2 separate regions of the Homo sapiens genome follow, and region 2 is linked to region 1. Evidence: fine-mapped expression QTL. Tissue or cell type: testis. Region 1 holds a variant in brackets; the other region holds the start of a gene. All regions are shown on one strand. Distances are between the middles of the regions.

The links. PIP is the estimated chance that this variant, and not a neighbour inherited with it, causes the effect.
Region 2: URGCP starts here. The variant in region 1 is fine-mapped to the expression of URGCP in testis (GTEx, PIP 0.94).

Annotation. Positions count from the first base shown.
Region 1 is chr7:43,868,693-43,876,795 of GRCh38, forward strand. It overlaps URGCP-MRPS24 (URGCP-MRPS24 readthrough), which reads right to left. Exons shown (of 7, transcript NM_001204871.2): 5 at 616-684; 6 at 271-382. The coding sequence ends at 294. It overlaps MRPS24 (mitochondrial ribosomal protein S24), which reads right to left and starts at 825. Exons shown (of 4, transcript NM_032014.3): 1 at 765-825; 2 at 616-684; 3 at 271-382. The coding sequence starts at 803. It overlaps URGCP (upregulator of cell proliferation), which reads right to left. Exons shown (of 6, transcript NM_001077663.3): 6 at 7,221-8,103. The coding sequence ends at 7,975. It overlaps LOC124901620 (a long non-coding RNA gene), which reads left to right and starts at 954. Exons shown (of 2, transcript XR_007060296.1): 1 at 954-2,142; 2 at 2,256-2,950. RefSeq lists silencers at 537-596, 897-956, 3,224-3,399 and an enhancer at 1,187-1,306. The variant T/G (reference allele first, on the strand shown) is at 3,549.
Region 2 is chr7:43,901,794-43,909,896 of GRCh38, forward strand. It overlaps URGCP (upregulator of cell proliferation), which reads right to left and starts at 4,803. Exons shown (of 6, transcript NM_001077663.3): 1 at 4,769-4,803. The coding sequence starts at 4,782. It overlaps URGCP-MRPS24 (URGCP-MRPS24 readthrough), which reads right to left and starts at 4,803. Exons shown (of 7, transcript NM_001204871.2): 1 at 4,769-4,803. The coding sequence starts at 4,782. RefSeq lists silencers at 4,579-5,008, 5,069-5,228.

The sequences.
Region 1 (8,103 bases):
CTGTAGACATGCAAATAATTTCTGTTCAGTGGAGGATCAATTGAGTCCCTGCCTGCCATGGAAAAAGTCAGTTTTGCATCCATCTTCAAATTTGTTTCAACATCCTGATCTATATATATCTCTGCTTTTTTATGTCTCCCTTGAGTTGGTTTCATAGATTTCTGACCCTAGCATTATTTCCTGAGTTAAAGAAAACCTGTGACACGTGTTCATTTTGTTTACATGACAGTCGGATTGAGTGCTCCTTTTGGAGGCCTGGGGTCCGCTCACCTGTGTGCAGCGACAGCCAGCCTTTACGGTGGGCGATGTAGTGCGGCGCGTGTGCCTCCTCGTAGGTCACCGGCTTGTCCCCCTTGCTTACGCGTACTCGGGCCGCCCGGTTCTAGGAGCAAAAGGGGCCGTGACTCCACGAGATCCCCGATCCAGACCCCTACTTCGCGCCATGTCCCCCCAGTCAGCTGGCACTGTTCCCCGGCCCCAATCCCCTGATCCCTAAGCCCCGACCCTAGCCCCGCCTCGGACCCCAGCGACACGCCCCCTTCAGCCCGCACGGCTTCCCCGGCCCCCGGCCCCCCGGCCCCCAGGCCCCCAGGCCCCTGCCCCGGCGGTGCTCACCTTGGCGCAGACCGGGGAGGTGTGCAGGGCGCGCCAAGCGCAAGGCAGCTCTCGGCTCCAGGACAGCACCTGTGGAGGGAGGGCGCGTGAGGCGGAAACTAGGGACCCCACCTCCGACTCGCAGGGACCTGCCGAGTCGCCCCACTCACCCGTGGCCCCAGCAACCCGCTGCACACGGAGGCCGCCATCTTGGGCCAAGCGGAGCGCGGGACGTACCACAGCGCGCTGAGGGGTGGGGACGACCGCGGACGAGACCAAGTCGGAGCTCGTACTCTGTACTCTGGCGGGGGCGGGGCAGGGCCTCTGCGGGGCGGGGCCGCGGTATGCTGCTAGCTGTTACTCCCGCCTTCCCCGCAGCCCTGTGAATGCTCAGCCTTGTGAATGCTCATCCCGCCGCTGTTCGCTCTCCCGCGGTTGCTGCTTGCATAGGGTTTCAGATCCGGAAATTTGAGGATGCGAAACGTGAGATTTTCTCTTCGACAACCTCACGCTAGTACGGGTGATGGGTGTGCGGCCCACCGGAGCCCGCCCTGCCCAACCTGCACCCTCGGGGCTCGAAGAGGAGCCAAGCGTTTCCCCAGGTCCTAGTTATGCCTCCAAATAATATTCGTAGAAAAACAAAACAGAAAAACCCTCCAGACTTTTATCCACAAATAAAGAAGAAACATATTTTGGTTAAAACGTCACCCAATTCTTCAAGGATGACTTACGCAGTTATGCAAGAATGGGTTTGCCACATGTGACCACAGTGGTGACTGGCCCCTGAGGAAGGAAAATTTTAAGTACGGGGAAGGGGCCGGAGGGCAAGGAGATTCGTGAGAATATCGCAGGGCCTGTAATGCTGAAACCAGTGCGTCGCCACTATTATTGGTATCCAGTAATTATTAATGTCAAACGGAAAAATAGCAACGCGGGATATTTTATTTTAGAAGTCACCACGGTCATGGAAAAAACACGGGCTCTGGAGTCAGACCCATGTATAACAATCTTTGTACAGTTAAGACTCAGTTCTATTATCTATAAAATGGGCCTTAATAATAGTACTACCTTATAGAGCTATTAGGATCAAGAGAATATTTAATCAATGATGGGTTGTGTTTGGTTGAGTGATGTGAAATTGCCAATGTTTTGGCCGTTCTGGGTCTACATCATTCCCCTTAATGGTACAGTACTTGCATACTGCTGCGGTTTCCTGTCAGGGGGAGGACTGGATTATGATCCATGGGAAGGGGAAATGGAAGAACGGTGGAAATGAGTTGCCCATGACCACACTGAGAAGAGGGAAAGAGGGACCAAGACACAAGTCTCTTGACTTCAGTCCAGCCCATTTCCCATGACCAAGATTCCTCTGATTACATGAAGGTGGGTTCTCAAAAAACCCGTAATAAAAGGACAAGGTCTTCCATGTCCACTTCACCAGAAATGTTTTATTCTTACTTTTTAGGAACTGCGGCCCCCAACTGTTATGCATATTGAATAAAGGGACAGAACAGGGATGAGGTGCCCTCCAATGCATACTTTGCAAATGTAAGAACTTTCAACATTTCCTAAGAAATCCTTTTCAACTGACAATTATTTTTTAAAGTTTTCATAATGTTCAATAATTTTATAATTGTTAAGTTTCATTAATTTGCTCCAAGGTGGTGAGGAACATGGGATGTGGCATCTGAATTGCCTGAGTCCAAATCGTGGACCCAATGCTTCCTGGCTGTGTAATTTGGACAAGTGACTGAACCTTCTGAGCCTCGGTTTCTCTCATCTGTAAACTGGGGACAATAATGGTGGTTGTGAGAAGTACAGTATGATGTGCCTGGCAGAGGGAGAGAGCAGTTGTGGGTTTTGTTGTTGTTTTTAACGAGTCCCTGATAGCCACATATCCCGTTAGGGAGATGAGCCAGCTATTGAGGGTTCTGTGAGAACTCATAGCAACACCACCCTAATCAGAGGAAAGGGGAAGGAGAAAGGGAAACAAGATCCTTGGGCTGATCAGAGGCAGAGGTGGCAATGGCACAACACCTATTGGGGCCCAAGGTGGGCAGGGGCCACACCACGAAGGCTGTGGTTGGGAATCAAGTTTAGCCCATAAAGCAGTAGGCAATCAAATGATCAAATTTATGCTTTCCTCTATTCAAGCCATTCTCCCTTATGCCTGAGATCTCTCTCTGGAATTCCAAACCGATCTAGATCTTTCCAAGCATCACAATGGCCATTTCAGTGGCAGACATTTCTGGGGTTCAAATATCTTGTTATCTATCCTTTATTAGCTTTGTTTATACTGTGATTGGGGGAAAGGGGACGTGTCGGTCTTTACATGATTAAAATTACTTAAAATGACTTTTATACATCAGTATGAATGTTATATTGTTTTAAATAATCAGCAGAAAAATCTGACTGGGGATGTTTTATTTTTCTGTAACTTCCATTTGTTGTTGTTTTGATGCACTTTCCTTCTCCTATTAATTCCATAAAGGAGGCAGTATTTCCAGGCTTCACAGAGCAGAAGATGGAGGCTCACAGACTCACCTGAGGTTACAGAAGTAGTAAATGGTAGCAGGCCTTTTTGCTCCAAAGCATGTGCTCTTTCAGTATCACTTCCTGGGGGTGAGGGTTCAGACCATGTTAGGATCAGGGAATGGCCTGGGTTTCTGTGGCTTGCTGCAGACAGCTCCCAAGTGGCCCTCAAGGACTGCCTGGACATGGAAAGGCCAGGAGCATATGACCCCATGTGAAAGACCCATCTGCACCCTTCCTGGAGCCTAATGCAGAGACAGGGATGTAAAACTGCTTTTTCTCTGACATGAGCCTTTGTTCTGTACATAATAACCAAGAACCAGAAGTTGCTCCTATGCTCTCAAAGCAGTGATTTGCAATTGCATGACAGAGCCCCCTGGGTTCCACACCACCTCTGTGGGGAGAGGGCAGGCACTCACACT[T/G]TTAAAATGCCCCTTAGATGATTTCAATTTGCAGTCGGGGCTGAGAACCAGTGTCCTGAACTCACTCAGTTTATTTGGGAGACTCCCAAAATGTGTATTTGCAGAGCCCCCTTTCGGGGAGAGTGCTGTTGGATGCCCCTGGAAGATTATGGCAGCTCTCTAAGGAACATAGCCATAGTCCACGCCCACCACTCTTGGTCACAAGGGCAGAAGAAGGGAGGAGGGGTCTGCTGGGAGGTCAGGACTTCTTTGAGATGATCTGTCCAGTTGGGTGCAGCACAGCCACCATGGGCTCACCCAGAGTGCTCAGGGGATACAGCACTGGCTGGGCCATGGAGAGACACTGTGTAAAAGGGAGCTGTCAGCCCCCTTGTACTTCCAGAGCCTGAAGAGTTTCAGAATCCAGCCTGGGGGCGGTGGGGTGACATCTCCCTTCCTGTTGGCTGCAGGGTGAGCCGATATCACTCCACTCATGGTGGTTCTCTTTACAGCTGACTTATCCTAACTCAGAACTGCTGACACTTTACACTTTGTAAACCTATGGTTTTTACATTATTCCTTGTGATTCTTTTTTTCCTAATAACTCGTTCACTAGGAAAAATCCCAGAGGCTCTCAGCTCTATTCTGAGAAATAGGTCAAACAACTGAAACCCTATGAGTAAAGCAGAGAGGCGTGTCAAACCAGATTGCCAAGACAGCTCAGCCGTTTTCCCTGTGAGCTCCTGCTCCATCCCCCCACCTCTGTTCTCCTTCTGGTGAGGCACAAGGGCTGGGTTTGGTGGGTGAGGTCCCCAGCTATAATTACTGACATCAGCTTTGCGGTCCCAAGGAATCCACTCCCCTGTTATCAGAGCTATGGGCAATTAGAAATGCCCAGTGCCACACCAGAACCCTGGGCTAAAAGTCAGAACCTGAAGAAGCCAAACTGGTGCTTAGGATAGAGGGGGTGCGGACTCAAGAAAGAGAAGACCGAGGGATGGGCTCATGAGCTCCAGCCCCTGAGACTGCCACTCCCTGGCTCCCAGAAACTGCTAGATCTAGATATAATGGGCTCAGATGAGGAGACAATGAAAATGTGCTAAGGACCAAGAAGGGCACAGAAAGGCCTCTGAACCCTTGGGTGGGCACAAATGGAGGTGCGACTGGCACCAGAGGCTGTTCTGAGAGATGTGCCCGCCAGTCAACCAGGGCCAGAGACAGGCAGAAGGGGCCCCCAGGCAGACAGCAGCATGGAAGAAACCATGGCCTCCAAAGTGTGTATGTGGCGGGGCGAGGGTGTGGTTGACGAAATGACAGGAGACCAGGACCAAGGTCATCTTGGCTCTTGTACAGCCCTGACTCATCAGTGCTCATAAAGCTGCACTCTGGTGAAATTTTGTTGGAGTCTTAGAAGAAATCAGGATAGGTTTATGGCCAAATTATTTTATTAGTGACTCAGAAAGAGGATTTTCCCTTTTACTGGGCTAATACACCACACCTGAGGAGTTGGGGTAGTTACCAGATCAGGTTTATATTGTATAAACTGCAGACCACCACCAGTTCTGCTAGGTGCTGTTTCAGTAAATTAAGATAGTATCGATGAGAAGATGCTGTTTTACATACCATTAAGAAGGAAAACTGGCTGCAAATTATCTTAAGGTACCATTGATTGATTAAAAGATGAATCCTGATCTGACATGTTAAAATGTTTGAGGCTGATGCAGAAGGCAGTTTCCTCTCCACAAACCTCATGGGTGTGCAGAATGGTGTAGACACAGAGATGGGTGCCTCACTTACCTCATGCACAGACTGGCTTTTCCACCACAGGGCAGGCACTGTATAAGCACCTTCCATTCCTACACAGGCGCTAGTAGGGGGAACTAAGGCTTGGAGAAGCCAAGTAACTTTGCTAAAGGGTCATATAATTAGTAGGAAGTAAGGCTGAGGTTCAAAACCAGGCCGGACATCCAATGTGCTGAAGCAAGCTACACCTCATCTCACAAGAGAGGCGAAGACACGCTTGTTCCTTGTCCCAAGCACTCTTCAGGCCCATTTCCTCCAAGATGGTACTTGCTTGGTTTGACACTTTCATCAAACAGGACCCCTTGTGAGCACACGGCCATGCTCTGGTGAGCAGCCTGCCGCCCTGTCCACCTTTCTGGGTGGCTCTCTCTCTACTAAGCTTGGCTCCAAGGACATGACCGTCCAGTAGCCCCATGGCAAATTCTGGGGCTTCTCAGACCTGAAGGTGAGCATTTTGAGCTCCAGATATGAAAGGCAAGTCCTGGGTGTTGTGTTCATTGGAATCCTAAGAGCAGCACTGACTGGAGGGCTAAAGGCAAGGCCCATCCACAGTTCACAGACTTGAAACATCAACCCTTCAAAAAGGGTGGGAGGAGGCTGGGTACGGTGGCTCACTCCTGTAATCCCAGCACTTTGGGAGGCTGAGGCAGGTGGATCACTTGAGGCCAGAAGTGTGAGACCAGCCTGGCCAACGTGGTGAAACCCTGTCTGTACTAAAAATACAAAAATTATTTGTATTTTTGTGATGGTGGGCGCCTGTAGTCCCAGCTACTTGGGAGGCTGAGAATCACTGGAACCCAGGAGGTGGAGGTTGCAGTGAGATCGCGCCACTGCATTCCAGCCCAGGCAACAGAGCAGGAAAATGAAAAAGGGAAAGGTTTTCCTAAACTTATTACTAAGAGACCAGGTTTGCAGAGAACCAGGCTCCTGGAACGCAGGAGGCAACAGTTTGGATGTCCCGGGAGCAGCAGGTGGAGCATCTGGGGAATCCAGAAATCCACAGCAGGCAGCCTGCCAGGCATCTCCAGAAGAGGGACCAGGAAGCCTTTTGTTCAAGAAAGGATTCCAGTCTAGAAGGCTGGTGAGCTCCCGAGAGCTAAAGGCTCCCTTGCTGTGTCTAGTGAAAGGAGGACAAGAAACATGGTAGGAGCTCTTGGGGAAGGGCCTGGTTTCTCTGAAGTCAAGAAACACAAAGAGAAAGAGGCTCCAAGGTCTAAGCAAGGCCCAGAGGATCAAGCAGAGCTTCCTAGAGCTGGTGAAAGGGCTCAGGTGGGGTTCTGAGGCCCAGTGAGGTGACACTGGCCTCTGGGAAGGGCCAGCACAGGCAAGGACTCCAGCGGGAAAACTGACAGGGCAGAACTACCAAGTCCTTGGCCAAGCCTCTGGTTCGAATGGTGGCAAGTGGGCTGTGGATGAGGTCGGGGAGGATGTAAGAGGAGGCGCTGGCACTGACATGGCTGCCCAGGGGTGAGCCCAGAAGCCATGGGAGTCTGGAGAGGATGAGAGGAAGAGATGCAGGGCTGGGCGTGACAGCACCACCCTTCATCCGCTCCAGCTCTGCCCATCCAGGTGTAAGCTCTGGGGCAGGGGATTACCTGCTCTAGGCTTCCTTTTCCTCAACTGTGAAATGGGGTGACAGTGGAAAGACCTCAGAGTTACTGTGAAGGTATTTAGTTTTAATCCCCAGTAACAGCCTGAAGAATGGCTCCTGCCTTAAAGAGAGGGAACAGGATGGCTTTTTTAAGTGGTGCATCTCTGTGCTATCTACCATTCCAGATACTGCCTGTACCGTACACCCTCCTCAGACAGATGCTGCTATCCTCTTTGAGAAACAGGAGAATTAAGGCACAGAGAGGCAGAACCTGCCCATTACCATCACTTGTGCACTCATTCATTTAACAGACATTTATTAAGCGTCTACAATGTGCCAGGCCCTGGGGACACAGAGCTGGAGAATGTACAGTCCCTGCCCTCAAGGAGCTCACAGTCTGGGGGGACAGACATGTAAACACATGAGTTACAACGCGCTGCGTGAAGTGTGTGGCAGAGGTATAACAAAGTGCTGTGGGGCACAACAGAGCGACCAGTGAACTCTTCCTGGGCAGGGGTCAGGGAAGCCTTCACAGATCAGTCAATAAATACGGTGCCATGGGAGTGCCTTGCACACCACGGGCACTCACATCTTGAATGCTGGTCCACTGGAGGCCCTTGGGTTGGGCGGGAGCAAGGCCTACTTCTGCTTCCTCAGGACAACTTCCCCACCTCTGTCCTGGGACCACCTGCCCGCCTGGGCCTGCAGTGACTAAGGACGCTGCTCCCACTCCAGGGGCCAGTGACAGAGAGCAGCTATACAGAGGGCCCACCCCGCAGGATCCTTGACAGGAGCTGAGACAGAACAAACTGCTGCTTGTCTCCCTACCCTGGGGGCTGTGATATTCTTGGTAACATCTCTGAGCTGGTCTGTGAGGTCACTTCCTCTTTTAACACTGTTGAGGAGACTCCAAACCCTGTCTTTTCCTCGTCTTCTCATGTCGATTGGGCACCAGCCATTCTCAGGCACCAGAGCACAGCCCCACACGGGTGCCCCATCAGACAGGGCTGCCCACAGCAGCCTCCTACACCTGAACTGGGTTTCTCTGCACACTCACAGCCGTCTCACCAGCTCAATGAGCTGCTGGATGTTTTTGTTTTGGTTCGACAAGCCGTTCCTGATGTTTTCGAGTAGGCATCTCTTCAATTCAAATATGGCTTCACTGTAGGCCAAGCTCACTGC
Region 2 (8,103 bases), 33 kb after region 1:
CCCATAAAATGACAGTGGTGGGAGAGAATCTTCCTGGACAGCAAAGACAAAAGGTTAAAAGTCAAGTCAGGTACTTTTGACAGCCAATGGATGTTAATGGGGGTGCTTTCAGCTTCCAAGGTAGATGAGTCCTTGAGAATTCCCAGGAGCCGAGATGTTCCTGAGAGGAGCAGCCAGGAGGGTGGATGAGGTCTCCAGCTGAATGTTTAAAGGAACAGTGGGCTGGGGAAAGGACCTGAGGAGGTCACTGGGGAGGAGAGAGGAGCAGGCGAGAGGAAAGAAAAGGAGTGGAGGGGAGGAACGGAGACAGAACAGAGAAGGGAGGAGGAGAGGGAGGAGGAGGGGAAGGGAAGGGGGAGGAGAAGATGGTGGAGAGGGAGGAGGAGGGGGGAAGAAGAGGGGCAGGTGCCAAGGTGCGTGTGCCCTCCTTCCTCAGGCAAGGACTCAGTCCACAGAGGAACAACTGGCCTTGGGTTTGTCGTCCAGTGATGGCTTCTCCTCTACCCCAATTAGCCACACATTCCTGGGTTTCAATCACTCAGTCACCTCATCCACTACCATGAGTCCCACCTCTATATAGCTAAGCATTCTCCACAGCCCCACTCGGACCCCACAGGTCCTTCCACCCATTCTGTGTCCGAGCTCCTCCCTTCTAGGGCAGGTCTTACTCCATTTCTCCTGGCCAGAAAGGGACCATATTTTCTGAAACAAAGCGCTGAGGAGTGAGAGTTACTTATGGAGATCAACTTACTCACTTGCTGTTACCCACTGGATCAAAGAAAAAAGCGGAATCTTTCTAAGGGAATACAGAGGTCAGGGATGAAGTTTCTATCTTTAAAGACCGGGTAAGCGAAGATGCCATTAGCATCCTATTTCTTGACTCAATTATTCCATCAGGCAGGCAAAACTTTTCATGTATGATGTCATCATGTGTTGGGAGGTACAGAGAATCCTTAAAATCTGGTGGTGGCAGGGAAGGTGGTACAATCATTTAAGAGGATCATTTGGCAGCATCAAGTTACAACAGGCAGGAAGAACAAAAAACAAAAGCAGGCCCTCTGCTCAAGCAGTCCAAGTCTTTGCAGGTACTCTACATGTCCAGAGTGAGACACAGATGGGCAGCATTATCTTAGAGAAAACCGGGAACATTCTTAACTGAATAATGTAACCATGCCATGGAATATTATATGTCTGTCAAAATGTAGGTAGACTGGGCACTGTGTAATGTGCTTATAATTCCAGCAATTTGGGAGGCCGAGACAGGAGGATGGCTTGAGCCCAGGAGTTCAAGATCAACATAGGCAACATAATGAGACCCCCACTGCTATTAAAAAAAAAAAAAAGAGAGAGAGAGAAAGAGAAAGAGAGAAAAAAAATGTAGGTAAATCAAAAACAAAAAACAAATGTATGTGGATCTGTTCCTTGTTCTGGCATGGAAAGAATTTCAAGGCATATTGTTGGGCAAATAAGCAAGCTGCAGAACAGTATGATAGCATTTATGTAAAAACAGAGCAAGGAACAAACTTAGTATGTAAATGCAAAGGAAAACATCTGTCAGGGTACCCCCCCAAACTCAGATGGGAGGGAGGAGGGATGCTAGTTGTTTCTGTAAAGCTGTCACTCTGATAAGAATAAGTGACTATTTAAAATCTTTTTAAGATTTTAAGATCGGTGGTCTATGTAAAGCCAATTATACTTGATCTTTATTTATTGTTTTTCAAATTATCCATCAGTAACAATCTGAAAAATATAGACTTCACACAGCTAACCCAGGTTAAAGAAACTTGAGGAGCTGTATCTAGTGTAGTTGGAAATGAAAATCTGGAAATTTAGGATGAATAGTTGTAACATTGTTAAGGATAAGAGCCCCTTTGAAAATCTGTTGAAAGCTACAGACCTTGTGCCCAGGAAAATTACACACTACTCCCAATGCTGCATACAATTTCAGAGAACAAAGGGACCCCCAGAAGCCCATCCATGAATCATGGAGCCTAAGTTAAGAACCTCTGATTCAGACAACAGTTAAAGCCACTAAAACAGATGTGACCATGCAGAGAACATGTGTTGGGACTAGCGGAGATGGATTATAGAGCCCAAGGAAACCCCAACAGTGAAAGAGCAGGCAGAGGAGCTGGCAGACAAGGAAGATCTGGGCAGTTGTGAGACAGCCAAGCAAGGGGCAAAGACAAGAGATGAGCTGTTGAGTGAGGCCTGTTCGAAAGAGGGGAGATGGCAGCATGAGCTGCTCCCTGTCTTCTGCCCTCTCTGCCGTCTCTATACTGCTGTCACATTGATTCTCTGAGAGCTCCACCAATGCAAATAGTTTCATTTACCTTCAGCGAGTGGTGGGCAGTGAGTCCACAAACGGGACCAGGTCCCATCATCTGGTCCCAGTCTCATCCTCTGAACTTGTCTCCACTTAGCTCCAAACACACTGGGCCATGGGGCATTTCTCAAACACATCTTTTCCTTTGATGCCTTCATATCCTTTGATTGCCATTTCCTTTATTTAGCACAATGCCTGGCATATTCATAAGGTCCTCAAAAATGGTCAGCGTTTCTTCTTTCCTTCCCAACTCATGGAGATTGTCACTTAATAAAAACATCAATTTGGAGACTCCTCTATGACTAGCCCAGTCCAGATCACCAGTCCCTTCCCATCCCTGCCCTTTATCTGTGGACTTGCTCCCTAAGATACCTAGTGCAGTAGCTTAAATGTTTGCTAGCTGGCTGACTGAGATAGCCCTGAGGGTCTCAGAAAGCACTGTCTTCCTAGCTAGACTCTGATCTACCAGGGAAGCCTGTAGAAGTGGACACTTAGGAGCTATGTCTGCCAGTGTACATAATATGTGCATAGCTTACCCCACAAAATGAAATAAAGCAACAGTCATGAGTCACTTAACAACAGGGATACATTCTGAGAAATGTGTCATTTGGCAATTTGGTCCTTGTGTGAGCATCATAGGGCAAACTTACACAAACCTACATCGTAAGGTGTACTATGCACCTAGGCAATATGGTACAGCCTGTTGCTCTTAGGCTACAAACCTGTACAGCATGTTACAGTATGAATACTGTAGGCAACTAACACAATGATAAGTATTTGTGCATGGGACCACTGTCATATAACGTGGTCCTCCGCTGTCATTTTGTGGTGCATGACTTGTATACTAAAGGTTTTGAGACCTCAGCTTTTGCAATGGATATCCCGCAGAAAATTATAGATTACAAACTGCAGACTCATGGGGGTCACACAAATAATCACAACCGCAAATACCAAATGTCACCAACTACAGGGACACAGTTTAAGCCCTACTGGCTCACAGAAACACCAGTGAAGCATTAAGTCCACCTCTGACCCATGTCTACAAAGTAGTGTACTTGGGCACCAAATGCACCACTATTTTTTTTTTTTTTAAAGCTTCGTTCAGGGCAGCCCCACACAGGTTCAGCCACCCTCAACATTGCCTCCAGGAGGCTCTGCCCACCCTTTCCTGACAAGGGGGAAAGGAATGCTGCAGGACCTTGAACCCCTAGGTCAATCAGCCTGGCCTTCCCAGGGATGGTTCCCTGCTTACTCTATTCATGAGCTCAAAGTGCTGGGTAGTCAGCTGGCAATGAAAAGGCCTGGTCCCGGAAATGACCACTGCCCCAAAGCCTAGAAAGACAGCAGGCGGGGTTCAAATTCAGCTTGCTTCATTCAGGCCCACTGTACTGAGCCAAATCACCCCAGGGCATGGCTCAGGCCTCATCTGGAGGAGGCACGAAATCCATGATCCCGGCCCCTTAGCACCGTCCCCTCCCCACCCCTACCACTGAACACACACCTGTAAAGCTCTTTGGGAACTGTTCTGAATGGCTATCACAGCCACTAGATCCAAGACCCTCTGAATGATGGGTAACAGTCAAAGAAGAATTTTAACAACTAAAGCGATGACCTTGAGCCTAATTTCTTTCTTTGTAAAATGAAAGTGTTGGACTGTCATTCCCAAATTTCAGTACTAGTAAAATTATCAAAACAAAAAACAAAAAAATAATGAATTACTGAGGTTTTAGTTTGCCAAGTGAGAATTTTTTCTCAAAAATTACAAACTATATGTGTCGCCATCATTTCCTAAAAGGAATAACATTTAAATCAAAAAAGTTGAAAAGAGGTAATATCAAAATAAGCGCAGCCACCCCAAGGCAGGCCGGTAGGCAATGGCCCCGACCAAGGAGATCCCGGAGCGGCTCTCCGGCTGTCAGCAAAGGGTCTGCATCTGCCCGGATCCTGACATTCTGGGTACGTCTCAACGACGCGGCAAACAAGCGTCCACTCCCAACGCGAGCAAGTTTAAAACCCAGGAACATCGATACCAGGCGCCGGAGCGAAGCATTTCCAGGCCTCCGCGGGTTGCCCCGGGCCGCGGCGAGGACCCGCACCCCGGTTCCCCAGCCGCTCGCCGGGCCCTCGCTCCCGCCGCGCCCCGGGCACCTCCGGGCCTCGCGCCCTCCCCGGATCCCCTAGGCCCGCGTACCCGGACCCCCGCATCCCGGGGGACCGCTGTCCTCCGCCGGCGCCCCCGCCCGCCCCCCACGCCCGCGCGGCCGGTCCGCCCAAGGTCGGCGCGAGCGGGCCGTGGGCCTGGTGGGCCTGGCGGGCGGGGGCGCCCCTGGCCGGGTCCGGGCCGCATCCCAGACCAGAGCCCGCAGGCCAGAGCCGCTCCGGGTCCCGCTCCCGTTCCTGCCGGCAGCCGCGGGGGCGCAGGGCCTGCGAGGCGGCACTCACCCGGGCGACGCCATGAGCGCAGCGAGGTCTCCGCTCCCGCCTCCTTCGCTTCCTCCGCGCGGCCGCGGCTCGGCGCCGGGGAGGGGCCTGGCCCGCCGGCCGCCCGCCCGCTCCGGGACGCGCTCCAGGGGTGGAGGTGGGGTGAGGTGGGGTAAGGTGGGCCCGGGGTCCTCTCGGAGCAGCCCGGGGACAGCTGGGGCGGGGTGGGGGCGGGGCGGCCCAGGTCAGCCCGCAGCCCGCCCAACGCCCACCTGCCCAGGTGCCTGGAGGCCGGAACTCGCCGGGCGGTGCCTGCGGTGCCAAAAGCTGTAGGATAACCTGCCCCAGGGCCTTACTGAACTTCACACCTTTCTGTAATTGGAGTTTAATTTCTGTAAGAAAAGGCTTTTCTTTAGCCCTGAAGCGTAAGGCCTTATTATTAAGCAAAACAATAACTTTCCTACTTCTTACTTGCAGTGCTGTGTTGGACGAGTTGCTGGCCTCTCTGAGACGGTACCCATTGTAAAATGTGTATAAAGTGGCCTTGTGAAGCTCTAGGCAATGCGAAGCACTTTTATTATTCTTTATAGTGTGTTATTAAGAAAAATAATGAATCTGCAGTTCCTCCAGTGAGGTTTCACAACTATTCTTACAAGTTATGAGTCCTTAGGCAGGTAGATTTTTCAGCTTCAGTTCTTCTCTCTGCAAAATGAGTTTCCAAAAATGATCTAAGTGAAAATGCTTAATAAAAAGCTCTGGACAATGTAAACCATTGTTGATAACATTTTTAGTATTATATTAAATATCACTGGCCGAACGCAGTGGCTCACGTCTGTAATCCCACCACTTTGGGAGGCCGAGGCAGGAGGATCGATTGAGCCCAGGAGTTTGAGATCAGCCTGGGCAACATATTGAGATGACCCCCTGCCCGCCCCGCCCGTTTCATTTTTAAAAATAAAATTAAAGTTAAAAGTAAAATATCATTAACAACCACTATTTAAAAATGTTTACTACTATTAAGAATACAAGACAGCAAAGCAGTGATTAAAACCTTAGCTCTGAAGCCAGAATACCTGTGTTGGAATCTGGGCTCCACCAATTACCAGCCCCAGGAGCCCCTGCAAGATAGAACCTTTCCAGGGCCACAGTTCCTTATTTGAAAAATAAGGCTAAAAATAAGTCCCTTCCTCTCTGTGAAGATTAAATGAATTAATATTTGTAAACATTTGTAACTATTTTTAAATGTTAGTAAACATTGCGTGATGCATGGTCTCTTTTCCTCCTGGGAGAATCCAGTCAATGTTTCTGAGCCTCCTTGTCCTCTTCGGTAAAGAAATTCATAACTGCTACCTTGAGTTCAGAAGATAATTAATGCTCTGTAAATGGGAGCTGATAGGTAAAGCCACGCGAACTTGTGACACCCAAAATAAGGACAAATCCAGGAGGACCAGAGTTAGGAAGAGTTTGAGGAATGGGAAATCCTAAATCCTAAATGCCTGATTCAAGGGAGTAATGAAATGAAGGAGATCAAACTAAAAGAATTTTTTCTTTGTTTGTTTGAGACAGGGTCTTGCCCTGTCACCCAGGCCAGAGTGCAATGGCGAGATCTTGGCTCACTGCAACCTCCACTTCCCGGGTTCAAGCAATTCTGCCTCAGCCTCCCAGTAGCTGGGACTACAGGCGCCCACTACCACACCTGGCTAATTCTTCTATTTTTAGTAGAGACAGGGTTTCCCCATGTTGGTCAGGCTGGTCTCAAACTCCCAACCTCAGGTGATCTGCCTGCCTCAGCCTCCCAAAGTGCTGGGGTTACAGGCGTGAGCCACCATGCCTGGCCTAAATAAGCATTCTTTTAAACATAAGGAATACATGTTTACTGACATAAAATCTGGTTCAGAAACCAATAACCCCAAAATATGGCACTTTAACAAGCTGAACTGAAGAAGTCTCAAGGTCTCTCTGATCTCCCTCCCCACTGGTTTCTCCCAAAACAGAAAATGTCTTTATCTGCTTAAAGTCCAGACCCTCCAAGGAGAACAACTGTTTTTCTTGCCCTCCCTGTAAGACCAAGAATGTAACCACACCTGAAAAGACCCTTTCATAGGATAGCGTACAAGTTAATCTCTGTGCCCTGATCCATTCCTTCTCCCTAGTAATCCTTTATTGCCCCTTGAAAGAATTCCTCTTTCTCCCCTCCTGTAAGTTGTTTTGCCAAGATGGTCTACAAGCTTCTGAACCTTGTTGGGTGGTGGGAAATCATTCTGTAATTCTCCCTGTGCACACATTCATAAAATTTGTATGCCTTTTCTTCAATTAATCTGCTTTTTGTGAGTTGATTTTTCAGTAAATCTTCAGAGGGCAAGGAGAAACTTTCCCGTGGCCCGTACACTTAACATGAATTTTAGCATCCCACTATATGGTTAGACCATCATGTTTAACCAACCCCTACTGTTGGACATAAATATTGCTACCAGTATTTCATTATTATAAGGAATGTGAGTAATAAATATCCTTATAGCCAAAACATCCCATAAACATCAATGATTATTTCCTTATGCCAAATTTTGAAGAGTTGAATTTCTAGATCAATAGGATATCAGTATTTTAAGGCTCTTCTGAAACATATATACTCTGTGTATGTGTATGTGTATACCTACACACATACACAAACACACTAATATACATATACTTAAATACATAATACACATACACACATATGTATACATATACCTACACACATATATACAGACACACAAATATACACATACACAACATATACACACATATATACAGATTGCCTTCCCAGCACAATCACCTGATAGTCCTAGTTTTCCAAAACACTGTGTAACTTTTACAATTTTTCAAAATCATTGCCAACTTCATAGGTTAAAAACCAGTATTTTAGGCCAGGTACGGTGGCTCATGCCTGTAATCCCAGCACTTTGGGAGGCCGAGGCGGGTGGATCACTTGAGGTCAGAAGTTTGAGACAGCCTGGCCAACATGGTGAAACTCCATCTCTACTAAAAATACAAAAATTAGCTGGGTGTGGTGGCGTGTGCCTGTAGTCCCAGCTACTAAGGAGGCTGAGGCAGGAGAATTGCTTGAACCCAGGAGGTGGAGGCTGCAGTGACTGCAGCCACTGCACTCTAGCCTGGGTGACAGACTATCTCAAAAATAAAAATAAAAAATAATTTAAAAAATAATAATAATAAATAAAATTGGCCAGTGCTGTGCCTCACGCCTGTAATCCCAGCACTTTGGGAGGCTGAGATGGGTGGATCACTTGAGGCCAGGAGTTCAAGACCAGCCTGGCCAACATGGAGAAACCCTGTTCTCTACTAAAAATACAAAATTA